7 linked regions of the Homo sapiens genome follow. The protein of the gene in region 1 interacts with the protein of each later gene in a biochemical or structural test. Each region holds a gene or a part of one and is shown in the gene's direction. Other genes may lie near its edges.

Evidence for each region.
Region 2: the proteins of GIPC2 (region 1) and RAMP3 interact in a test that uses a peptide from one of them, tested with the Homo sapiens proteins (one large-scale study listed by IntAct).
Region 3: the proteins of GIPC2 (region 1) and TRAF7 interact in a test that uses a peptide from one of them, tested with the Homo sapiens proteins (one large-scale study listed by IntAct).
Region 4: the proteins of GIPC2 (region 1) and MMP24 interact in a test that uses a peptide from one of them, tested with the Homo sapiens proteins (one large-scale study listed by IntAct).
Region 5: the proteins of GIPC2 (region 1) and ABCC4 interact in a test that uses a peptide from one of them, tested with the Homo sapiens proteins (one large-scale study listed by IntAct).
Region 6: the proteins of GIPC2 (region 1) and KCNA1 interact in a test that uses a peptide from one of them, tested with the Homo sapiens proteins (one large-scale study listed by IntAct).
Region 7: the proteins of GIPC2 (region 1) and KIRREL2 interact in a test that uses a peptide from one of them, tested with the Homo sapiens proteins (one large-scale study listed by IntAct).

The regions. Positions count from the first base shown.
Region 1 is NC_000001.11:78,122,466-78,125,965, forward strand, and holds part of GIPC2 (PDZ domain-containing protein GIPC2), read left to right. Parts: intron 1-3,415; coding exon 3,416-3,497; intron 3,498-3,500.
Region 2 is NC_000007.14:45,164,291-45,167,790, forward strand, and holds part of RAMP3 (receptor activity-modifying protein 3 precursor), read left to right. Parts: intron 1-3,500. UniProt on the Homo sapiens protein: Accessory protein that interacts with and modulates the function of G-protein coupled receptors including calcitonin gene-related peptide type 1 receptor (CALCRL), calcitonin receptor (CALCR) and G-protein coupled estrogen receptor 1 (GPER1).
Region 3 is NC_000016.10:2,169,282-2,172,781, forward strand, and holds part of TRAF7 (E3 ubiquitin-protein ligase TRAF7), read left to right. Parts: intron 1-1,332; coding exon 1,333-1,449; intron 1,450-1,982; coding exon 1,983-2,075; intron 2,076-2,290; coding exon 2,291-2,324; intron 2,325-2,909; coding exon 2,910-3,093; intron 3,094-3,183; coding exon 3,184-3,318; intron 3,319-3,500. UniProt on the Homo sapiens protein: E3 ubiquitin and SUMO-protein ligase that plays a role in different biological processes such as innate immunity, inflammation or apoptosis. Potentiates MAP3K3-mediated activation of JUN/AP1 and DDIT3 transcriptional regulators.
Region 4 is NC_000020.11:35,233,190-35,236,689, forward strand, and holds part of MMP24 (matrix metalloproteinase-24 preproprotein), read left to right. Parts: intron 1-2,891; exon of another isoform or gene 2,892-3,002; intron 3,003-3,500. UniProt on the Homo sapiens protein: Metalloprotease that mediates cleavage of N-cadherin (CDH2) and acts as a regulator of neuro-immune interactions and neural stem cell quiescence.
Region 5 is NC_000013.11:95,067,452-95,070,951, reverse strand, and holds part of ABCC4 (ATP-binding cassette sub-family C member 4), read left to right. Parts: intron 1-3,500. UniProt on the Homo sapiens protein: ATP-dependent transporter of the ATP-binding cassette (ABC) family that actively extrudes physiological compounds and xenobiotics from cells.
Region 6 is NC_000012.12:4,914,867-4,918,756, forward strand, and holds the end of KCNA1 (potassium voltage-gated channel subfamily A member 1), read left to right. Parts: 3' UTR 1-3,390; downstream 3,391-3,890. UniProt on the Homo sapiens protein: Voltage-gated potassium channel that mediates transmembrane potassium transport in excitable membranes, primarily in the brain and the central nervous system, but also in the kidney.
Region 7 is NC_000019.10:35,859,911-35,863,410, forward strand, and holds part of KIRREL2 (kin of IRRE-like protein 2 isoform c precursor), read left to right. Parts: intron 1-386; coding exon 387-492; intron 493-608; coding exon 609-757; intron 758-998; coding exon 999-1,126; intron 1,127-1,211; coding exon 1,212-1,344; intron 1,345-1,630; coding exon 1,631-1,731; intron 1,732-1,894; coding exon 1,895-2,114; intron 2,115-2,582; coding exon 2,583-2,687; intron 2,688-3,004; exon of another isoform or gene 3,005-3,016; coding exon 3,017-3,126; intron 3,127-3,500. UniProt on the Homo sapiens protein: May regulate basal insulin secretion.

The DNA.
Region 1 (3,500 bases):
GGGAGACCTCAAGAAACTTACAGTCATGGCAGAAGGTGAAGGGGAAGCAAGGCACGTCTTACATGGTGGCAGGAGAGAGTGAGTGTGCAGGAGAAACTGTCGCTTTTGAAACCATGAGATCTTGTGAGAACTCCCTCACTATCACGAGAACAGCCTGGGGGAAACCACCTCATGATGCAATCACCTCCCACCAGGTCCCTCCCTTGACACGTGGGGATTGCAATTCAAGATGGGATTTGGGTGGGCACACAGAGCCAAACCATATCAATTCTCCACTTGCATAACCTCATACTTTATTCAATATGTGCTTGCTGAGACAGGCACAGTCTAAGTGCTGGTGATACAAAGAAGAATAAAAACCCTGTTTCTCTTCTAAAAGGAGAGAAGCATGAAAAGAAGCTATTACAACCCAGTGGGATAGGGTTAATGGAAGCAGGTGCAGGATACACAGTGTCACAAAGAAGGGGCTGATCAGCCATTGACAGGGATTGGGGAAAGAAAGGAGGTCAGAAGGCTGGGTGCAGTAGCTCACGCCTGTAATCCCAGAACTTTGGAAGACTGATGTGGGTGGGTTACCTGAGGTCAGGAGTTCGAGACTAGCCTGGCCAATGTGATGAAACCCCATCTCTACTAAAAACATAAAAATTAGCTGGGCATGGTGCTGGGCACCTGTAATCCCAGCTACTTGGGAGGCTGAGGCAGGAGAATCACTTGAGCCCAGGAGGCGGAGGTTGCAGCGAGCCGAGATTATGCCATTGCACTCCAGCCTGGGTGACAGAGTGAGACTCCATCTCAAAAAAAAAAAAAAAAAAAGGGTCAGGAAGTGTTTCTCTCCGGAAGAAATTAGTGAGTGAGTTCAAAATGGGGAAGAAGAGTGTTCTAGGCATGGAACAATAATGGGTTTTGGGGACCTGTAAGCTGTTCATGAGATTGGAGTGTGGGGTGCTGGAAGTACTGGTTAGGTAGGGGTGATGAGGCTAGAGGCATAGGCTGGGGTTAGGATATGAAGGGCCTTGTGGATAATGAGGGAGCCATTTAAGAATTATGAGGGGAGTAACACAATCAGTTTTGTGTTTTAGAAAAATCCCTTGGTTCCAGGGTATGGGTTGTTGAGCAGCTTGGATTTGAGAGGGTGAAGACCAAAGGCAGGGAGACAAAATAGGAAACCTCTGCAAATCAGAAAAGATGAGGACTAAACACTGGCAAACAGAATGTGGATGGAGAAGAGGTGATAGATCCAGATCTGTTCCGTAGCAAATAGGAAATATTAGAATGGTAAAATATTGGTGGCCATTTGGGTATGAGGAGTACTGACACTTGTCACCGTAACTTAAAACGTGCCTGGATAGATATAAAGGTTAATACCTGTTAATTTGCATAGCCTGTTGCTTTATACAGACAATTCAAGATACATTGTAATGAAGGCAAGAGCAATATATTGTCTGTTATTGTTTTTAAGGTTTAGTTCTTGTAAATAAAAATGTGAGAAAGTTGTATTAATATCTTCAAGGAAATAGATTTTTATTTGCTATAAAATGCATGATTTTAATAAAATTTGAGACTACAAAACAACATATATTTATAACAGTATTGAAAGTAACATGAAATTCTTATAATCTAAATAATGAATTCTACATTTGCATGTATAGTTGAGTAGTTAACATCTTTGGGCAATTCCATTTTCAGCTATGATGCCATTTAAAGCCAAGTATTGAAATAAACTGAGCAGAATTTACCAAATATTAAACCAAAAATTTAAAATAATATTTTTACTGAAATGTTTAGTAATCATTTCGGGAAGAACAAAAATGTTTTGGTACCATTAATACATAACACAAAAATGATTTAAAAAGTATTATTTTATCATCTCATTCTTATAAAATTTCCTTTTTTGGTGTATTTTTATAATCTATACAATATATTAATATGGTAATACATGTGTAATTGATAAGCAATACATACAATAAAGTTAAAAATACACAATAAGGGTATTTGTTCAGAAAAGTTTTACTATTGGGATGAGCCATCAAACGTTTGGAGACCCTGGCCTGCACCATAAAGACCAAAGTCCTTTTCATGGTACACAGGACTCCTCAAGATCTAGTCATATTTGTCACTGTGTTCTCCAGCTACATGGGACTTCTGGCATCCCTCTAACATGACTCTGTGACCTTACTTAGACTTTGCCTATCTATTGCATCCTACTTGAAGTGTCCTCTCCTGCTTATCTCCTCTTCATCATTGAAAACACAGTTCTTGGCTGGGCGTGATGGCTCATGCCTGTAATTCCAGCACTTTAGGAGGCTGAGGTGGGCGGATCACTTGAGTCCAGGAATTGGAGACCAGCCTGGCCAACATGGTGAAACCCCGTCTCTACTAAAAAAATACAAAAAATTAGCTGGGCATGGTGGCGCACGCCTGTAATCCCAGCTACTTGGGAGGCAGAGGTTGCAGTGAGCTGAGATCACACCACTGCACTTCAGCCTGGGCAACAGAATGAGACTCTGTCTCAAACAAAACAAAACAAAACAAAGCAAGACAAAAAAACCCCGCCACAGTTCTTAAGACATCCTTCTTTTTCTCTGAGACAGGGTCTTGTCCTGTTGCCGGGTTGGAGGGCAGTGGCAGAATTATGGCTCACTACAGCCTCGTCATCCTGGGCTCAAGTGATCTTCCCACTTTAGCCTCCTGAGTGGCTGGGACTAAAGGTGCATACCACCACACCTGGTTACTTTTAAATTAAATTAATTAATTAGTAGAGATAGAATCTTGCCATGTTGCCCAGGCTTGTCTAGACCTCTCAGGTTCAAGTGATCCTCCTGTTTCAGCCTCCCAAGTGTCTGGGATTACAAGCATGTGCTACCACACCCAGCTAATTATTTTAATTAATTAATTAATTTTTTTTGTAGAGATGGAGTCTCACCATGTTGCCTGGGCTGGTCTTGAACTCCTAGGCTGAAGCAACTCTCCCACCGTGGCCTTCCAAAGTGCTGGGATTACAGGTGTGAGCCACTGTGCTCAGCCAAGTCACCTTCTTTCTAAAGTCTTCCATGACTGTTAGAGATATAAATTTGCTTCCTCCCCTGTGATGCTTCTGTGCCTTTTATATCCTTTAAAAACTGTTACATGTTATTTATTTTCACATCTGTTTCCTCTTCTAGATTGTTAGCTACTTGGGGATTGTGTTCCTGGCTTTTCTTTTTTGAATCCGTAACACTTAGTGCTGACACTAGAAATAAGTATTTACTGTATTGATTTGTATTTAGTTACAGAGCACATTCTAGATCTATTTCCATTAAAATTAGCTGAAATACACAATTATGAACCGGCTCCACATCAGGCTTTCTCTTGTGTATGCCCTGACAATCAAGAGATTTTGTTGTATAATATCTTATTTCTCTCTTTTTTGATAAAGCCTTCTGAAACCAAAGCAAAGGCAATTGAAAAGATTGATGATGTTCTTGAGTTGTACATGGGAATTCGAGATATTGATTTAGGTA
Region 2 (3,500 bases), on another chromosome or scaffold:
GTAATTCCAGCACTTTGGGAGGCCAAGGCGAGAGGATCACTGGAGCCTAGCCTGGGTAATATGAGATCTTGTCTCTACAAATAACAAAAAAAAAATTAGCTGAGTGTGGTGGCACATGCCTGTGGTCCCAGCTACTCAGGAGGCTGGGGTGGGAGGATTGCTCAAGCCCAGGCAGTGAAGGCTGCAGTGAGTCATGATCACACCACTGTACTCCAGCCTCGGTGACAGAGTGAGACTTTGTCTCAAAAGAAAAAAAAAAGAATTCTCCAATTATAATTGTGAAATTGTGGATTTGTCATTTTCTTTTTGTAGTTCTGTTTTTGCCTTGTGTGTTTTGATGCTGTTATTAGGTGCATACATATTTAGGATTGCTACATCATCTTGATGAATTGAGCCCTTTATTGTATTGAAAAGACCCTCTTTATCTCTAGTAATATTTTTTGCTCCAAAACATACTTTGTCTGATATTAATATAGCCACTCCATCTTTCTTTTGATTAGTGGTAGCAAGATGTGTCTTTTCCCACTCTTTTATTTTGAACCTATTTGAGTCTTTTCATTTAAAGTTGGATTCTTGTTGGCAGCCTACTGTTGGACCTTACTTTTTGTTCTTATTTGACAATCTTTGCTTCTTAGTTGAAGTGCTTAGACCATTTACTTTCAATCTGATTATTGATATGGTTAGATTTAAATCTACCATTGTACCATCAATTCTTTTCCTCTCTTTTCTCCTTTTCTGCCTTCTTTTGGACTTAGTATTTATTATTATTACTCCATTTCTTTTTCCTCTTGCCCTTCTCCTCCTCCTCCATCCTTGCTAATTGGGTGTAATTCTTTTTTTTGTTTTGTTACTCCAGTGGTTGGTTCAGGGTTTATGGTATACATCTTTAATTCATCAATCTGTCTTCAGGTGACATTACACTGATTCATGGATAGCCTAAGAACCTTCCATTTCTCTCCTCCTGAACTTTATGCCATTGCTGTCATATATTTTATTTAAATCAAAGTTATAAATCTCACAATACATGATTATTATTTTTTACAGAATTTAGACATTGAGAAAAATTCTATATATTTACTTGCATAGTTAAAATTTCTGATCTCCTCCATTCCTTTGCATAGGTCCATATTGGCTTCTGATAGGCTTTCCTAAACATTACTTATAGTTTGGGTGTGTGGGTGATATTTCCTTTCACCTTTTGTATGTTTGAAAAAGTTTTTATTATGCCTTAAAAAGCCAGCATTATTGAGATATAATTCACATGCCACACAATTCACCCATTTAAAGTATACATCAATATTTTTTAGTACATTCCTAGAATTTTGCAACCATCACTATACTCAATTATGGAACGTTGTTGTCACCACAAAAATAAACCCCCTACCCATTAGCAGTCACTCCCTATTTCCTCCAACCCCCTTAGCCTTAAGGAATCACTAATATGTTTTCTGTCTCTAGATTTGCTTGTTCTGCACATTTAGTGTAAATGGCATCATATAATATGTGAGATTTTGTGACTGGCTTCTCTCACAGCAGAATGTTTTTAAGGTTCATTCATATAGTGGTATGTTTTAGCACTTCACTCTTTTATGTACAAATAATATTCTATCACATGGGTATACCACATTCTAGCCATTCATCAGCTGATGGACATTATTTCATCTTTTGGCTATTATGAATAATGCTGTTATGAATCTTCATGTAAAAATCTGTGTGTGAACATGTGCGGTATAAATTTAGGAGTGGAACTGTGTAGTCATATGGTAACTCTACGTTTAACATTTTGAGAAACTGCTAGACTAGTTTCCAACGTGGCTGCTTCATTTTACATTCCAATCAGCAGTAGTATATAAAGGTTCCAATTTCTGCATGTCCTCACTGACACTTTTTTTTTTTTTTTCTGAGAGAGGGTCTCATTCTGTTGCCCAGTCTGGAGTGCAGTGGTGCAGTCATAGCTCACTGCAACCCCGGACTCCTCAAGCCATCCTCCCACTTCAACCTCCCAAATGTCTGGGGTTACAAGTGTGTGCTATCACGTCTGACTGCCTTTTTGATGATAGCCATTCTGGTGGGTGTGAGTGGTATGTGATTGTGGTTTGATTTGCATTTCCCTGATGGTTAATGATGTTGATTGTCTTTCATGTGCTTATTGATCATTTATATATATTTTTGTAGAAATGACTATTCATATCCTTTGCCCATTTTTAATTGCTTTATTTTTCCCTTTATTATGGAGTTGTAAGAATTCTTTATGTAACCTGGGTACAAGTCTTTTATCAGATATACAACTTGCATATATTTTCTTTCATTCAGTGGGTTGTCTTTTCACTCTCTTGATGCTATCCTTTGAAGTACAGAAGTTTTAAAATTTGACGTGTCTAATTTATCTATTTTTCTTTTGTTTCTTGGGTTTTTGGTGTCATGTATAAGAAGGCTTTTTCTCACACAAGGGCACAAAGATTTTCTCCTGTATTTTTCTAAAAGTTTTATTTATTTATTTTTTGAGACAGAGGCTTGCTTTGTTGCCCAGACTGGAGTGCAGTGGCGCAATCTCAGCTCACTGCAACCTCGGCCTCCCAGGTTCAAGCTATTCTTGTGCCTCAGCCTCCCGAATAGCTGGGTAATCTAAGAGTTTTATAATTTAGCTCTACATGTAGGTCTTTGATGCTTTTTTTTTTTTTTTTTGAGACAGAGTCTTGCCTTGTTGCCCAGGCTGGAGTGCAGTGGTATGATCTCCGCTCACTGCAAGCTCCGCCTCCTGGGTTCACGCCATTCTCCTGCCTCAGCCTCCCCAGTGGCTGGGACTACAGGTGCCCGCTACCTCGCCCGGCTAATTTTTTGTACTTTTAGTAGAGACGCGGTTTCAGTGTGTTAGCTAGGATGGTCTCGATCTCCTGACCTCGTGATCTGCCTGCCACGGCCTCCCAAAGTGCTGGGATTACAGGCGTGAGCCACGGCGCCCGGCCTGTGATCCATTTTGAGTTAATTTTCGTGTATGAGGTGAGAAGGGTCCGACTTTATTCTTTGGCAAGTGTATATCCAGTTGTCGCAGTACCATTTGTTGAAAAGAGTATTCTTTCTCTGGTGAATTGTCTTGGTACCTTTGTAGAAAATCAATTTATCATAAGTGTGAGGGTGTATTCCTGGACTCTGAATTCTATTCCACTGGTCTATTTATCTAACCTTATGCCAGTACCATGCTATCTTGATTACTGTTGCCATGTTGTAAGTTGTAAGATTGGGATGTGTGAGTCCTACAACTTTGTTCTTTTTTTTTTTTTTTTATTTTTGAGACGGAGTTTCATTCTTGTTGCCCAGGCTGGAGTGCAATGGCGCGATCTCGGCTCACCGCAACCTCCGCCTCCCGGGTTCAAGCGATTCTCCTGCCTCCTGCCTTGGGAAGCCTCTCCTGAGGCTTCCCAAGTAGCTGGGATTACAGGCATGCGCCACCACGCCCGGGTAATTTTGTATTTTTAGTAGAGACGGGGTTTCTCCATGTT
Region 3 (3,500 bases), on another chromosome or scaffold:
CCAGAAAAGAAGTTTTTAATTAATTGAACAAACACACCTGTGTGCCGGGCGCTGTGCTAGGCCGAGGGCGAGTTGGGTATGTCTGGGCCCCGTCCCCTGGGCCTCTGCCTGCCTCGGTCTCCACAACCCGAAGCCACGAGTCCTCCATGTCTGTGGTTCCCATAATCACCTGCTATCCCCATGGGTCACGGTGGCTTTCAAGAGAGGCGGGTACCTTCTCTGTTTGCTGATAGGCCCACACAGGGAGTCCCCCTCCTGCCCTTCCCCCGTCCCCCAGGCCTGCCTGCTGTCAGCCCCTACGCCCAAGAGGGTGGGAGACTCTGGGGTAGTATTGGGCAGGCCCGGGAGAGTGGTTCCCGTGCCAGCTCCTGCTCTGCTCTCGCCCCTGGGGCTCCCTCTGCTGCTGTGGGGCCTTGTGACTCACTTTCTCTGACTCCCTTCTGTTCCCCATGTGCTGCTTCCATGCAGACGGGCCCTTGGGACCCAAAGGGAGGTGGGTACATGGCACACAATGCCCCCCGCCGGCCTTGGGACTGGTTTGCCTCTGTGCTCTGTGGGTTTCATACCCAGGCTGCCGGGAAGGGGGCCAGAGGCTCGGCAGAGCAGCAGCTGGGCCCCTCTGCAGTCAAAGCACCAGGAGAGAAGCCTTGGGCAGTGTGGCTCTTGGAAACTTCTGGAGGTTTCCAGGCCAGAGGGGAGGAAGGGACAGTGTCTGCCCCTCCCCCAGGCTCCCTTGTCGGTGGCTCAGCCAGAGGCAGGCACCTGTGGCCCTCACTCCTGCCCTCGGGAAGCTCAGCCGAGGTTCTCTGGGGGCCTGGCCCTGCCTTCCCTCTGAGCCTCCCAGCTGGGCCTGGTGTCCCCCACCAGCAAGGCCAGACAAGCAGCCAGGCCCGGGGGGCACCTGGAGCCCAGCCGTCGCTCCCTGCCAGCATTCCTGGCCCTTCCATCCTGCGGTCACGGCCTCGGCTGTCCAGGATTGGCTGGTGGAGGTGCCCCCTCACGGCCCACATTCCCCCACGGGAAGCAGGAAGCAGCCCGGGTATATGGAATTGAATAGCAGGAAGTCTCTCCATTTACACAAAGAGAGGTGGCAGGCGTGAGCGGGCAGCCCAGCACCCCGGCCCAGGCCGCCCAGGCGGGCAGGCAGGGACCTGGGTTGCATCAGCTCCCCACGCCCACCCACGGCCCCCGTGGACGAGGAGAGTACCCGCAGGGACCGGGGTGGCCCCAGGGGTGCTGCTGCCCTCGCGCTTCCGCCGGGCTGGGTCCTGTCCTCCCCGAGGCTCTGACCCCGTGCGGAGCCCCCCGACAGGCGCCTCTCCCTCCACACAGCCCCCCATCAGCACTCCCCGCCGCTCCGACTCCGCCATCTCTGTCCGCTCCCTGCACTCAGAGTCCAGCATGTCTCTGCGCTCCACATTCTCACTGCCCGAGGAGGAGGAGGAGCCGGTAGGTGTGGGGGACTCGGCGCAGAGCGGCTTCCAGGGCTGTCACCGCAGCCGTGGCACGGAGGCACCTTCCCCTCCGCCATGCCCGCCCAGCTCACAGGGAGAGGGCGGCTGGGGCCTGACGGGAACTGCAGTGCTTGCTGGTCCGTGGTGGGGACTCGAGGGACCAGGCCGGGTCCCCTGGGCATGTTCCCCCACTCCCCCTTCTCAGGGCTGCCCGGGAACTGGCAGCGGGAAGCACAGGGCTCCAGCAGGGCCCTTTCTAGTCTCACCCCAGGAAGGAGGCGGGCGAGGGCGGCCAAGGCTGGGCGGCTGAACTCATCCTCCGGGGTTGGGCCCTGCCTCTGGGGCCACAGACCTCGCTCTCCCTCCTGGGCCCCGATCAAGCCCCCCAGCTCTAAGCAGGCCTCTCTCAGGACGTGACCCTGTCCTCAGAGGACAGCCAGGCCTGGAGCAAGAGCGCCTGGGTGCCTGGGTGGTGGCGGGGCTGAGGGTGGCCTCCCGCCATCGCCTGCCTTTCCCGCTTGGTTCCAGGAGCCACTGGTGTTTGCGGAGCAGCCCTCGGTGAAGCTGTGCTGTCAGCTCTGCTGCAGCGTCTTCAAAGACCCCGTGATCACCACGTGTGGGGTGAGCCCGCCGCCCTTCCCAGCCCCCCTGCTGCCAGAGGCCCCCACAGGACCCCAGGGCTCTCGGGGGCCGGGGCTGTGGCGCCCTGGCCTTGGTCAAGGCCTGTCCTGGCTGCACTGGGCTTGGGGTACAGCGAGGCCTGTGGCTGCCATGGCCATGGACTAGGGAAAAAGAGGACCCTGCGCCACCCTCAAGCCCGCCCTTTGCCTCCACAGCACACGTTCTGTAGGAGATGCGCCTTGAAGTCAGGTAGGTTTGTGCCCCGGCCCAGGCCTGACGCCGACCGTGCCCATGGCTGCCGAGCAGAGGCGGGCGGCTTCTCCCTTGTCCCCTGCACAGCGTCCGGCCCTGTTTGGCCTCTGCTGGGGTTGGGATGGGGCTGCAGCCGTCCTAGGGACGCTCAGGCTGAGGCTCGGGACCTCCATGAGCAGAGTGGGGACACCCCAAATTCCAGTGTGTCCAGACTCAGAGACCCCACAGTGGGTGTGGGCCGAGGCTCCCCATGCCAGGGTTGGCACCCTCTGGGGAGGCCTTTCTCACTGGCGAGGCTGTCGTCCTCCCGCACGGCGCCCGCTCCTGCCTGCCTCTCCGCACTCTGCCCTCTGCCCTCTTGGCCCCACCCCACACTTTTCCGGGCACAGCTGAGTGTCACAGGTGACACTCCCTCAGCACCTGCTGCTCCTTCTTGGTGGCCCACCTGTGCCCCCGTTCCCATGTTGCGTGCCTCAGAGGCGCAGATGGACAGATCTGGCCCCCATTAGAGGCTCATGCCCACCCGGGTGAGGGAGCGTGTGCCAGGCAGGCCGTGAGGGTCAGCACGCCCTCCTCTCCCAGAGAAGTGTCCCGTGGACAACGTCAAACTGACCGTGGTGGTGAACAACATCGCGGTGGCCGAGCAGATCGGGGAGCTCTTCATCCACTGCCGGCACGGCTGCCGGGTAGCGGGCAGCGGGAAGCCCCCCATCTTTGAGGTGGACCCCCGAGGGTGCCCCTTCACCATCAAGCTCAGCGCCCGGAAGTAAGTGCCCCTCCCTGGGCACCTCTGCCTCCCTGGGGGCTGCTTCTCAGGGCTCTGGCTGAGGCCTCCCCGCATCCCGCCCTGGCACAGGGACCACGAGGGCAGCTGTGACTACAGGCCTGTGCGGTGTCCCAACAACCCCAGCTGCCCCCCGCTGCTCAGGATGAACCTGGAGGCCCACCTCAAGGAGTGCGAGCACATCAAATGCCCCCACTCCAAGTACGGGTGAGTGGGGGGCGGGCGGGGGTGGGCCGGGGTGGGCGCAGGCCCTCCACAGGCTCCGCTGAGAGCTGCCCGCTTGCTGGTCCCGGGGAGGTAGGCCGGAGCTGGGGCCACACCGGGGTCTGTAATCCTCTCTGAGGCCCAAGGCCCTGGAAACCCAGAGGGGGAGCCGAGGGCGTCCAGGA
Region 4 (3,500 bases), on another chromosome or scaffold:
TGAGGCCAGGAGTTCGAGACCAGCCTGGCCAACATGGTGAAACCCTATCTCTATTAAAAATACAAAAAAATTAGCTATGCATGGTGGTACATGCCTGTAGTTCCAGCTACTTGGGTGGCTGAGGCACAAGAATCACTTGAACCTGGGAGGCGGAGGTTACAGTGAGCCAGGATTGAACTACTGTACTCCAGCCAAAGCAAGACTCTGTATCAAAAATCAATCAATGAATCAATCAATCAGTCCACTCAGGAGTCAGTTATATCTGAAGCCTATATGGCAAAAACTAATGTTTGACAAAGCTGGCTGGTGATTTTCCAATATATATTGTTATTTTATGCCTTTCTGAATGACTGAAATATTGAATAATAAAAAAAATTAAAAACAAACCAAAATCTGATCACCTTACTCCCACCCTCACCTGGCTTAAAATGACTCTTAGGACAAAGATTATACTATTATTACTGTACTACTATCACTTCTTCCTTTTAGTTTTATTATGGAAAACTTTCAAATGCATATGAAAATGGAAAGAACAATATTATAAACTCCCTTGGACGCAGCACCCACAAGGATCACTTGAGTCCGGGAGTTTGAGACCAGCCTGTGCAACATGGCAAAACCCCATCTCTACAAAAAAATACAAAGAGTAGCTGGGTGTGGTGGCATGTGCCTGTAGTCACAGCTACTTGGGAGGCTGAGGCAGGAGGATTGCTTGAGCCCAGGAAGCTGAGGCTACAGTGGACAGAGATCACACCACTGCACTCAAGCCTGGGCCACAGCGCAAAACCCTGTCTAAAACAAAAACAAAAACATGCTTAATGAAGCCGATGAGGCCCTGCATGACTGAGTCCTTCCCATCTCTCTGACTTCCTTTTATACCACCCATTCTCCCCATTGGTCACTAGACTCCAGTCACCCTGCCCTTCCCTCTCTTTTTCTAATATACAGGCTCCTTCCCATTCAGGAATTCAGTAAGGTACTCTTTCCTGGAGTCTCATTCTCAGCCTTCACCTAGCCTCTTCTGTTCATTCACAGATGTCAGCTGAGATGTCATGTACTCAGGGAGGCCATCCCTGATATCACAGCCTATATCTCCTGCCACACACTTTTGTAGCTCCTGGTTCTTCTCTTTCATTCCACTTATCACCACTGTAATGAAATGTTTAGTATTTCCATGTCTATCTCTCCCACCGGCTGTAACTTCCATGAGGATGAGTTCAAAGGGGACTACAGGCATGTAAACCATTATTTATAATGTAATACAAAATATGCTATAAATGAGGATACATATAATGCCATTGGGAGCACATAGAAAGTCCATTTAACCCCAGACAGATAGCCCTCCCTGATGAAGTGGCATTCAAGTTGCATTTTGAAGTAGCGCACCATGGGGAGGCCAGAGTACATATGGGAAAGGAGTTCTAGGGAGAGGGAATGAAATAAAGGCACAGAGGCAGGACTCTGCAGGATATGCTCAGGCAACACAATTAGGTCAGTATAGCTAGAGGTTGGGGTACTTGAGGTGAGCAATAAAGGGTAGAAGGTACAGGACAGAACATGAGGCTGGCAGAACCAGGCATGGTGGCTCATGCCTGTAATCCCAGCTTCTCAGGAGGCTGAGGCTGGAGGATTGCTTGAGACCAAGAGTTTGAGGTCATAGTGAGCTATGATTGTGCCACTGCACTCCAGCCTGAGCGACAGAGCAGAACCCCATCTCTACAAAAGAAAACAGGGCTGGAAAGGTGCATTGGCATCACATTGTAAGGGTTGTTGTGTCATGCTAAAGAATCTGGACTTTAAGACTGGCAATGAGGAACCAGAAGATCGGCTTCACAGTCAATCCACTTAGGCTAAAATAATGGAACTTTTTAACATGACTTACAGGTTATTTAGTTCAACCATCTCCCTGTTGCAGTTAAGAAACTGAGACTTGGTCTGGCTGTGGGGCTCACATCTGTAACCCTAGCACTTTGGGAGGCCAAGCTGGGAGGATCACTTGAGCCCAGGAGTTTGAGACCAGCCTGGGCAACATGGCGAAACCCTATCTCTACAAAAAATACAAAGATTAGCTGTGTATGGTGGCATACACCTACAGTCACAGCTACTTGGGAGACTGAGGCAGGAGGATTGCTTGAGCCCAAGAAGTTGAGGCTACAGAGAGCAGAGATTGTACCACTGCACTGCAGCCTGGGCCATAGAGTGAAACCCTGTCTTAAAAAAATTAGGCCAGGTGCAGTGGCTCACACTTGTAATCCCAGCACTTTGGGAGGCTGAGGTGGGTGGATCACCTGAGGTCAGAAGTTCGAGATCAGCCTGGCCAATAGGGTGAAACCCTGTCTTTACTAAAAAATACAAAGAATTAGCTGAGCGTGGTGGTGGGCACCTGTAATCCCAGCTACTTAGGAGGCTGAGGCAGGAGAATCACTTGAACCCGAGAGGCGGAGGTTGCAGTGAGCCAAAATCACGCCATTGCACTCCAGCCTGGGTGACAAGAGCAAGACTATGTCTCAAAAAAAAATTTTTTTTAATTTAAATTTTAAAAACCCTGAGGCCTGGCCACTGGTCTTTGTCTTCACTTTTCCCTTTTCTTAACTCACCAAGAAGTCGAGCCTCAGGGGACAGAAAATTAGCAGATCTGCGGGAGGGCCTTGGACAGGGTGAGGAAGACTAAGGCCTCTCCTTTTCCAGAGAGTGAATGAGACCATGGCCACACTCCTGACTGTGGGCAGAGGCCTCCCCAGAACTGCAAAACTTGGACATCCCAGTGCTGACCCAAAACCCCAAATGTGCCACCTCCCCGGGTATGGTGATCATCTGGCTTGTGGTGGCCTCCTGGGAGTGGGCCAAGGACATTCTGCAGAGCGCCAGGGAATTCCCGCTAGTGCACTTACCACCCACTCAAGAGCCGATGGCAGCCAACAGGCAATGCTGCGCCATTAAGGTGTTTGTCAAGAAGCTAAGCTGGGCATTGTGGGCGATCCTGAGGGCCCTTTTTAGATTGGCTGTAAGTGAAGAAAAAAAACAGCATTTGGAGGCAAACTAGAGCTAGTGCAGAGGGTGTAGCATGACAGAAAACCCTCTGAGAGGCAGAGATGCTTGCCTCCATGTCTGGCTTCCTTACCAACTTGCTCTGTGATTTTGAATAAGTCATTTCCCCTCCCGGAGTTTTCTTTCTCTCTTCTGCAAAACAAGTATGTTAAATTAGATGATCTCTGAGTATTGGTGACCAGTGCATTTTCTAGATACCTGAATGATTATGCCTTCAGTATGAAATTTTACGAATTAGTTATATAACTCAGGTGGGCTCAGCAGCAAGGCTGGGACCTCAGTTATATGGGTAGAGGAGGAAGCAGGGTTTTGGTGGGACAAGAAGTGGAGGGAACTGACACAGTGATAGGACCCATCCCTGAGGAGTCACCAGAAAGACCCAGTGATTTGGTCTGGCAGCAATAACCAAACGTGGTGGTCAAAGAGGAGAAATGACTTATTAAAAATCACCA
Region 5 (3,500 bases), on another chromosome or scaffold:
GTGGGAATTTAAGATGAGATTTGGGTGGGGACACAGCCAAACATTATCAGGCCCTTTCCTTAGTCTTTCTTGCCTTCCTTTAACCTGTGCTTTGCTTTCCCTCCCCATCCCTTTCACTGCAAACTCTTTCTTTCTGAAACAGTTTGATCACAGATCTGATCCTTACGTGGCCAGCTCCTTGCCTGGGTGAGCAGCTGCTGCAACCTTAATGAGCCCCAGGCCCACCCTGACAGGACCTGTCTGGCTCTCAGCCCCCAAGGGAAGACCCAGATCCCATGACCCCATCAGTGCTCAGAAATCAGACCCCCAAGCTGGAGGCAGTAAAGGCACCAGAGACTCACTCAAAGTCAGTGAAAGGAAAACAAGGAGGGACTTGGGAGGCTGTGTGGAGTTTTGTGAGCTGGTTTTGCAGGTATCTAAGTCTGCCAGCAATGTCCCTTTCACATGTGTCCTGGGGCCCTTGGCTAGGACTAGGACAGCCTCTTGAAGGAACTAAACCAGAACAAACAAGACAGTAGAATCTCTTCCCCTTCCCACCCCTCTCCTCACAACTCCCAATATGGACACACATCCCCTGCACTCAGGGTGCCCTCCTTCTCCCCAAGCACCTGTCTGCCTTGCTCTTAGTGTGCACCCTTTTCAGTCAGTTCAAGCATCTCTGCCTCTTTGAAACTATATTCTCCACATCATCTTATAGATTCTTTTTTCGAGACAGAGTCTTGCTCTGTCGCCCAGGCTGGAGTGCAATGTCACATTCCCGGCACACTGCAACCTCCACCTCCCAGGTTCAAGCGATTTTCCTGCTTCAACCTCCCCCGTAGCTGGGATTATAGGTGTGCACCACCATACCCAACTCATTTTTGAATTTTTAGTAGAGACCAGGTTTTGCCATGTTGGCCATGGCTGGTCTCGAACTCCTGAGCTAAAGTGATCCGCCCACCTTAACCTCCCAAATCATGCCTGGGATTACAGGCATGAGCCACCATGCCTGGCCAGATTCTTTAATGTAACATCTGTGGCCCACCCGTGTTCATAACAGCATTATTTGCAGTGAGCAGTAGGTGGAAGCAGCCCAAGTGTCCATTGACTGAGGAATGGAAAAACAAAATGTGATACGCACGCATAATGGAATATTATCCAGACTTAAAAAGAAGGTGATTCTGACACATGCTGACATGTGTGATTCTGACATGGATGAGCCCTGAGGACATTATGCTGAGTGAATTAGGCCAGACACCTAAGGACGGTGCTATAAGGTTCCACTTACATGTGGGTACCTGGAGTAGTTAGTCATGGAGACAGAAAGTAGGATGGTGGGCGGCAGGGGTAGGGGAATGGGCATTAGTGTTTAATGGGTACAGAGTTTCAGTTTTACAAGATAAATGGAGTTTTAGAGATGGATGATGGTGACGGTTGCCCAACAACATGAATGTATTTAATATAATTGAACTGAACATTTTCAAGTGATTACAATGATCAATTTTATGTTACTTTACCACAATTTGAAAAGTACATAAAGTACCTTTTGTGTATTTTACCACAATTTTTTTTTAAAGAAGATAGCACGATGGCATGATTTATAATTCTGGGTCAGCATCTCACAGTACCCTGAGCCTCTTAAAGTCAGGGAGCATTTTATATTCGTCTCTGTACCCCCAGAAAATGGCATGCTGCAGGGCACATGGTGGGTGCCTGTGAGAGTGAGGGATATGCACATACAAAGAAATCGGTAACAAAACACACACGACAGCTCCCGCAACAGCCCGTTCTCTGGGTGTCAGTGTTAGATACTTTCGGAACTGCTCTTTTCAGCTCTTCCCACCACAGACCCATTTAATGGGCTATAGTCACAATTGAATGAATGATACCCTTGTGCCATGAAAAATAAATATACAGCTTCATGCCCAGAAGATACCCAGGGAACCAGCAAAAGCTGATTCCTCATTATCTACCCAGCATCCTTGTGAGTGTGAAGAAGGTGGAGACCACTCTGCAGGCAGCATCAGCTGTAGCTCTTGCTGAAAGCAAGGTTTCTCAGATTCTGTTCCTGATGGGGCCAGGGGGATGTTTGCTTACTCTCAGACAATGTGTTATTAGGTCCTACCTGATCAACATCATTCTGTTAGTTTGGCCACGTTGTAAATTTCTCTTGTAGCCATAAAATATGAATTATCTACAAACCTCTGTTGTACACATTAGAAAACAACCTATATCCCCACATTGATATCGTTCCATCTTAAAACCCCCCCAAATCATAGGATTACCTGAGATCTGAAATGTGGGAGGGTAAATTGAATTTGAAGACTGAATTATAGCTACAACCACTTGGCTTTTGAGACAGAGTCTCGCTGTGTCATCTAGGCTGGAGTGCAGTGGCGCAATCTTGGCTCATTCTGCCTCTCAGGTTCAAGCGATTCTCCTGCCTCAGCCTCCCGAGTAGCTGCAATTACAGGCACCCGCTGCCATGCCTGGCTAATTTTTGTATATTTAGTGGATCCGGGGTTTCACCATGTTGGTCAGGCTGGTCTTGAACCCCGACCTCAAGCAATCCACCTGCCTCGACCTCCCAAAGTGCTGGGATTACAGGCATGAGCCACTGCGCTGAGCCCCACTTGGCTTTTGATTTGTGTCCTGGTTCACTCACAGTGTCACCTTTAGCTTCATTTGTGTATTCAGGCAACATCGTGGTGAGTTGGTTCCACTTTTTGTGTGTATATTCAGGGTTCGTCTCCTCCACACCTGCCTGCAGCCCCAGGATCTCAGGCAGTCCCTTTGCTGTTGGAGCTGATGGAGAGGGGCATTGTTTCCAGTGGAGATGTAGGAATGTGTCCACACAGCAGAAACAGGGCTTCATTCTCTTTCAATTGCTTCATCTGCTCAGATTTCCTGGACATTATAACAAATAGGAAAAAGTAATAGGCGCTAAGTAGGTTTCTAATTCACAGAAGAAATAGCAAGTAAAAAAGAATGAACCAAAATGAGGTATATACCACCCTAGCCTTCCTGGTTAGATTCCAAACACTGGCTGCATTTTTCATTTAGATGGTTTTGTGGTTGATTTAATCATTTTAGAGAGTACTGGGCCATTTTAAAGCATTTTTCAGCTCTAGAGGTAGATTGATTTTGGTTTGTTATTTTTTTTTCCTTGCTCAAAGCTATTACTTGGATAATACCTTTTTACAGATGTGTACTAGACCTTGCTATAGTGTGCAAAAATATTAGTTTCTTATATTCTCTCCTTTTTTACATTAATGTTTGCTGAGAAACCCCTCCTCTCACAGCCAGATTGTCCCACTTGCCCTGCCTGCTTGCTCATCTCAGGGGCTGGGATCAGCATCACCTGCCTCTGCTTGGAAACATGTTAGAAATGCAGACTGTCAGGCCCACCCCACCCTTTTGATTAAAATTGCACTGGGACAAGAACCACCCCCACTCCTGCCCCTGCATTAAAGCCGTTGCTCTCCGGTAAGCAATTTTGGATGACTAATAATCTGTGATTT
Region 6 (3,890 bases), on another chromosome or scaffold:
GAGGGCCACTTTGGACACACAAGGCTTCCTCAGGTCCAGTGTAGTGCTCCTGGCACCTTTCCTTATTTTTTTCTCTGTCGGTAACAGCACTTTGCAAATCTCTCTGACGGTCCAGTCTTTTCAGGCATTGTTGTGGATGTGGGAACACTCAGTTCATAATAACCTTTCCTAGGCCTTCCCTCCTGGTCTACCCCTTTCAGATATTTCCTGATGCCCCTATGATCTTCCCACCTGGCAGTCACTTCACAGGTTGAACATCTAACTTCTGCTGCCCCCCCGTTACCCAGCCCAGAGAATGGTGGGGACCCTGTTCCTGGCTGAAAGAGAGCCACGGAACACAGGCCTCTGGAGCTCGGCAGCTGCCCACCGGTGGAGAGGTACTCACAGCCTTTCAAAGGACCCTGAGGTGGGGAATCTTCATTCTGCACTTAGCATGTGGCTGCCTGTTACCTGACATTCTGGCCCAGCTTCTTCTGAAAATCTGTCCTGCTTCTCCCACCCCTTTCCCCCATCCTGTCCTAGAACTAGCAGTGAGGCAATCACCCTAGAAACTCGAGTTACACCCATTCTGGCTAACTCGATTAAAAGAAAGAACATGGATATCTTATTTTCCTATGTGACTTTTGTGAATCTGTGAGATGAACACAACACACATCGTGGAAGATGAGGGGCCAAGAACTGCGCAGCATCCGACTACAGGGCATTAAACCCTCCCATGTGATGTCTCCTTCTCGTCTGAACCTTAACTCATTCTGGCGATTCCTTTCCTACTTGCTTAAAAATCCCCAATTAGGAAAAAAATGCCAACCTCCTCCCAGGCTTGGGGTTATCTTGATCTTTCATTTCAACGTTGAGGTCTAGTGCACACAGAACTTGAAACACCGCACTCTGTCAACAGCAATAATCCACTCAGTACTGTGGGATGGATGGGTTAATGGATGAGAAAACGGCACCAAGACTGACTTTGGGTATTTGGTATATTTACCGTGGTTACACTCTGGACTGGTTGATTCTTCTGCATGTGATATAGAAAAAAGTGCTGCATGCGGTGAACCTGTCAGTCTGGGACTGGGGGTGAGTTGTTGTTATGAGTTTGGGGTGGTGTGAGGAAAGTGAATGCTGCTTAGCTCATCTGTAGCTCATTGCAATGAATTCAGTAAGAATGGAGTACAGGGATTATCTGTGTAGCATAGGCATGCAATGTTTGACCAAGCTCTTACCCTCGCACTGTAATGTGTTGAAATGTCTTTGTAGACCTGAAGGTGCACTTAACAAAACTGCCTATTAAGGGATGACTATTTTTTGGTTTACTTATTCATATTTATTTTAGCAGCCTTTTTACCTTTTCTTCCCCTTCCTAGGCATGGAGCTGTAACAGCTCATGTCCTGACTATGTGTTTTCTCCAGAAGGAGAAGACTTCTGATGTGCTGATAGCTATAATTCCTCTCTTCCAGTCTATTGGGGCCCTAGTTCAATAGGGTGGCAATAGAAGAGTTGGTCACACCAGGGCTGTTAGCCATCCCAGAATCTCTGAAGTGGTTAACTCACCTGAAGTGATCTGAATCAGAGAGACCAAAGACATTCATTTCCTCTGTCCTCAGATTTCTAGAAGACAAATTCTAGCCAGGAAAACTTTCTGTTTTTGCATCTCCCTTTTCCCATTTGTGCCCAACTCCCCTTGCACTCCCTGGAGACTTGAGTTCTGATTTTCAGTTATATCAGCTCATTGGGAGTGTGTTCGTGGGTGAGCCTTGCAGAATCAGATAAACCAATAGCAAGTCCTTCTCCAGGATTCTGGCCAGTGGGCAGTCATTTCCCTGAAATGAATTGTAGGGCAGGTTTAGATTCCACTATGGTGGACGTGAAGCACAGGTGGTGTCACAATCTTGATTTGCTTGAGAATTAAAAAAATACATGTAAATGGTAAATGAGGAATACATTTTTTTAAAGTAGAAATTTGGTTTAGCCTATAAAAGGCCTTCTTCACATTGTGTATAGTTACACGTTTTTCAAATTAGGTACCATCTAAAAGTCAATAAAAATAGTTTCCTAGCCCTCTCATTTAATATAGGAGACCTCAAAACACATGCTTTTTAACAATTTTACATTTTAATTCTTAGTTTGGTAGATTGGATTGAAAGAAAGGAGAAAGAACATTAGCAGAAGGCACTTTCCCATTTTCTTCCAGGAATGACTTATTCCTGGGGTGGTGAGAATTGGTGGGTGGTAACCATCCATAGTATAAAATTGTTAGAAAGAATATAAACTGCCAAACAAGCATGTTATCTTCAGGCTTTTCCAAGCAAGAATGAAGTCTTTTGATGTTTATGTTCATTTTAAGAAGACAAACAAACTAAAATTTTAAGACCAGACACAACCCAAGTTGAATTGTGATCTCAGGAGGTGAACTCTCATTCACCATGTGGCATATTACTACCTGTATTTATATCATGGAATTTCAGGGTATATGTGAACATGTCTAGTATGACTCAGGTAAACCTTTAAAGAATGTATGTTACTTACCATTTTTGTAAAGAAGCAAACAGGAGCTGAATTGTTAACCAAAACTGTTCCATTACCTTGGGTCACTGTGCAAACTAATTCAGGGTACAGATATAAAGTTTAGAAGCCTTGGGATTAAATGCCAGCCTCTTTGCTCAGGCAAAATGACCCTGGGCTTTCTTGGGAAGTCCAGCATGTATGTAAGGGGTGAGGCCCTGCTGACCTCAGGGCTTTTCGCTTTAAGGAGATTAACCCTAGTCACAGTGATTTTCATTTAGGAGCTAACTAGGAGTTTACTCTTTATGACGTGAAACTTCAAAGAGTATAGAAAACTTTTGTACCACAATCAAAGAAGAAGAAATGGTGTATGGAAAGAAAACAAAACAAAACAAGAAATCTCTTGTAAAATATTCCAGGTCAAAGTTGTCTCCTCTCCAAACCTTGCAGAAGCACCTTTCTTCTCTTCAGCGCACTGTTTTGGGACTGTTTATGCAGCAGATGTAAGTAGACAACATGGACTCCATGTGACATGCCTCTAATAGTAAAGATAAAGTATTACTGAGGTTAAAAATAAAAATTGAGTAGTATTAATTTAAAGTGCACCATCAGGACAACAAACCATTTAAGCTGAAAAAACGCTATTTTATTTCTTGAGTTTGCCAGTTGCTTCCACCTTGAGTTAAGGACGTGTCTCATCTTCACCTACTGCGCATTCTCCCTTCTCTAACTGTGTAATATGTCAGGTCAAGGACATTGAATGTTATGAATTGAGAACCTAATTGATGCGCATAGTTTTCATCTATGCAATTTTACTTGCTTCTGTCACTTTACGATCTGTTCATATTTGGCATCAATTAAAGATACTTTTTAAGGATCTTATCAAGGAATATCTTGACTGGTTATTTGTCTCTTGTTTAACTGGTCTTTTGGGGGCCCTTTTCTTCCCTTCTTCTGTGGGGTCTCTTTAAATAGTGGGGTGAATCCAAGATCAGATCATGAAACAGACTTGTTTCCTTTGGCCCACGTGGTCTGTTTCTGCTGTCCAAGGACATATCCGGGGGTTACCTTTTGAGGATAAATTCAGTTTGGTCTCAGGTAAGATCCCAAGTGAAGACCACTGGAATTTGGCCTGTGGAAGTTAGAGTGGAAGGAGGATCAAGCTTTCAAAATAAAACAAGAAATGAGGCTCAGGGGAACAAAGTAATTGGTTATATCCACTTAAGTTGTTTTGATTTGAAACTAGTTTTTATGCACAGTCTGAGAAGCTTTGCAGGAAGAATAATTGTGGGTGTGTGTGTGAGAGAGAGAGAGGGAGACAGAGACAGAGACACGACTGTGTGTGTGAGTGTAACAGAGTTGTGGTCTGGAATCAACTGACTTGATAGTT
Region 7 (3,500 bases), on another chromosome or scaffold:
AGCACACACTTGTAATTCCAGCTACCTGGGAGGCTGAGGCAGGAGAATCACTTGTACCCGGGAGGCAGATGTTGCGGTGAGCCGAGATCATGCCACTCAGCAGCAGAGTGAGACTCCGAGCAGGAGAGGACAGACAGCTGGGGTCCCTGGGGAAAGAGAAAGCTGGGCCTTGACTCTCACATCGGGGAGACTAGGAGAGGGCAGAAGGCTGGCACATTGAGGTAACTGGGGAAATTGGGAACTGAAAGCCCAGACTCCTGGCTCAAAGGGAGAAGGGGATTAGGGGCCCAGACTCCTGGGATGGAGGAACCAGGGACTGGACACCTAGGCCAGTGACGGAGGTGTTCCTGGTCCTTGCCCATCTGACCATTGTCCCACCCTCACAGACCCCCCAGAGGTGACTCTGTCTGCTTCGCCACACACTGTGCAGGAGGGAGAGAAGGTCATTTTCCTGTGCCAGGCCACAGCCCAGCCTCCTGTCACAGGCTACAGGTGAGGACGAAGACCCACCTCTCCCCAGCCCCAAGAGTGAGCTTGGGAAGGGCTGGGACCTGAGTAGGTGTGCCAGAGAGGCCAGGACAACGTTAACAGCGCCACCATTTCCTCAGGTGGGCAAAAGGGGGCTCTCCGGTGCTCGGGGCCCGCGGGCCAAGGTTAGAGGTCGTGGCAGACGCCTCGTTCCTGACTGAGCCCGTGTCCTGCGAGGTCAGCAACGCCGTGGGTAGCGCCAACCGCAGTACTGCGCTGGATGTGCTGTGTGAGCTGGGGCCGGCCTGTGGGTGTGGTCAAAGGTGGCCGTGGCTTTCAGGGCTGTTGAGGGTCGGGGCCTGGAGGGGCGGGGCCGGGAGAGCGAGCGTGGGGTATTAGGAGGAGGAGAGTGTGGAGCTGGGGCATATTCTTGCGCCCTAGAGGGTGTGGTGTTTCTGTGGGGCTGGCTGATCCCAGGTCAGTGGCTGCATTCCGCCCCGGCCATGTGACCCCTAGTCTCTTTCGTCCAGTTGGGCCGATTCTGCAGGCAAAGCCGGAGCCCGTGTCCGTGGACGTGGGGGAAGACGCTTCCTTCAGCTGCGCCTGGCGCGGGAACCCGCTTCCACGGGTAACCTGGACCCGCCGCGGTGGCGCGCAGGTACAGCCCTAAATCTGAGGCGGTGGCTGGAGGGGGACCAGGCTTCCTTACAAATCCGGCTTCTGACGCCCCTTCCCTGTCGCAGGTGCTGGGCTCTGGAGCCACACTGCGTCTTCCGTCGGTGGGGCCCGAGGACGCAGGCGACTATGTGTGCAGAGCTGAGGCTGGGCTATCGGGCCTGCGGGGCGGCGCCGCGGAGGCTCGGCTGACTGTGAACGGTGAGAAGGCGGGGCTTCCTAGGGGACCTGGCCCGTCCTGGGATAGGGAGCGGACAGAGGGGGCAAGGGCTAATGCAGTGGGAGTGGCCTGGAAGGAGCTTTACACCCAGCGGGGGCTGGAGACCGGACCTATTGAAGGCGAGGCTTTTAGGAGAATCGGAGTTTGGAGGCGGCGTGGCCTGATTGATTGAGGTTAGCGGAGAGTGCGCTGGACAGACCCGGCTTTGTTACAGCCTTTGGGGAGGGCAAGACCTCTCCTCTGAGTGACCTACAGTCTCCATCCCAGCTCCCCCAGTAGTGACCGCCCTGCACTCTGCGCCTGCCTTCCTGAGGGGCCCTGCTCGCCTCCAGTGTCTGGTTTTCGCCTCTCCCGCCCCAGATGCCGTGGTAAGGAAATGTCACTCCTCCCGTGACCCATCCAGCCGTGATCCCTGACCTCCCACCTGGCCCCCCGAAACTACTGTGACCATTTCTGACTTCCCAGACATCCCTCCTGCTTCTTCCTCCCCTCCTCAGTCTCCTCCGTGTCCTCCCTCTTTTGTGCCCCCAGGTCTGGTCTTGGGATGAGGGCTTCCTGGAGGCGGGGTCGCAGGGCCGGTTCCTGGTGGAGACATTCCCTGCCCCAGAGAGCCGCGGGGGACTGGGTCCGGGCCTGATCTCTGTGCTACACATTTCGGGGACCCAGGAGTCTGACTTTAGCAGGAGCTTTAACTGCAGTGCCCGGAACCGGCTGGGCGAGGGAGGTGCCCAGGCCAGCCTGGGCCGTAGAGGTGAGACCCCAGCCCGAAGACCCCAAATCTGGAGAGTCTAAACCCCACAAACGCAGGGATCCCCCAGCCGAGGGCTGCAAAACCTCATACCCTCAAATGCAGAGGAGACCTCCAAACCTCGGGAGTCTCAAAACTGTGGGCTCATTGATTCCCAAGACACCCCTCAACCACAAATGCCTTCACATTCTGAATCCTAAACTGAGAGACTCCTCACACCTAGGGGCCCCAAAAAGGGAAACTCCAATGATTGCAAAGCAAATTGCAAAGTAAAGGACCCCTCAAATTCTAAGACTCCCTAAAGCCAGGGAGTTTAAACTCACTCTCAAACTTGGGGAACCCCAAATTCAAGGGCCTTTGAATCTTCAAATGTGCGACCTTTTGAACCCAGGAATCCCAAACTCAATCCCTGAGCCCCCGCTTCCTGGTTCCCCCTCAGCCTTCTCAGGATGTCCCCTCTGCTCCCTGCAGACTTGCTGCCCACTGTGCGGATAGTGGCCGGAGTGGCCGCTGCCACCACAACTCTCCTTATGGTCATCACTGGGGTGGCCCTCTGCTGCTGGCGCCACAGCAAGGGTTAGTGCCTGAGCCCCGCCCCGGCTCCCGAGGCCCCAGCCCCACACGCGCCCTGCCTGCCCAGTGACCTGACCTGGCCTTGGGCCTTGGCTCCAGTCCCATTTCCAGCTCTGCACAGGGCTTAGCTCTCCTTCACGTTCTGGTTCCCTCCTTAAGCCCTAACTAGGCCTTCCCAGGGTCACACTCCTCGGTGGGAATGATTCTTATTGGTTTCCAACAGCCCTACCCAATCAGCCTCATTGGTTCCCAGTCCTCTCTCTTCCCGCTTATTGGTCTGCACACATTGTGACCCCGCCCATCGCTTAACTCCACCGGTCGCTGTTTGTCAGCCTCAGCCTCTTTCTCCGAGCAAAAGAACCTGATGCGAATCCCTGGCAGCAGCGACGGCTCCAGTTCACGAGGTCCTGAAGAAGAGGAGACAGGCAGCCGCGAGGACCGGGTAGGATGCCAGGGTCCCCAGACCTGACTGTGCCTCCAGACCTAAATAATAGCCCAGTCCCAAGAGGGTCCCCAAATTCAAATAGGACTCTAAGGCCAGGCATGGTGCCTGACGTTGGTAATACCACTTTGGGAGGTGGAGACACAAGGATCACTTAAGGCCAGGAATTCAAAGCCAGCCTGGACAGCATAGCAGGACCCCATCTCTACAAAAATACAAACTAAAATAAAATAAAAAATGAACCGGGTATGGTGGCATACACCTATAGTCCCAGCTACTCAGGACACTGAGGTGGGAGGATCCCTTGAGCACAGGAGGTAAAGGCTGCAGTGAGCTATGATTGCACCATGCACTCCAGCCTGGGCTACAGAGCA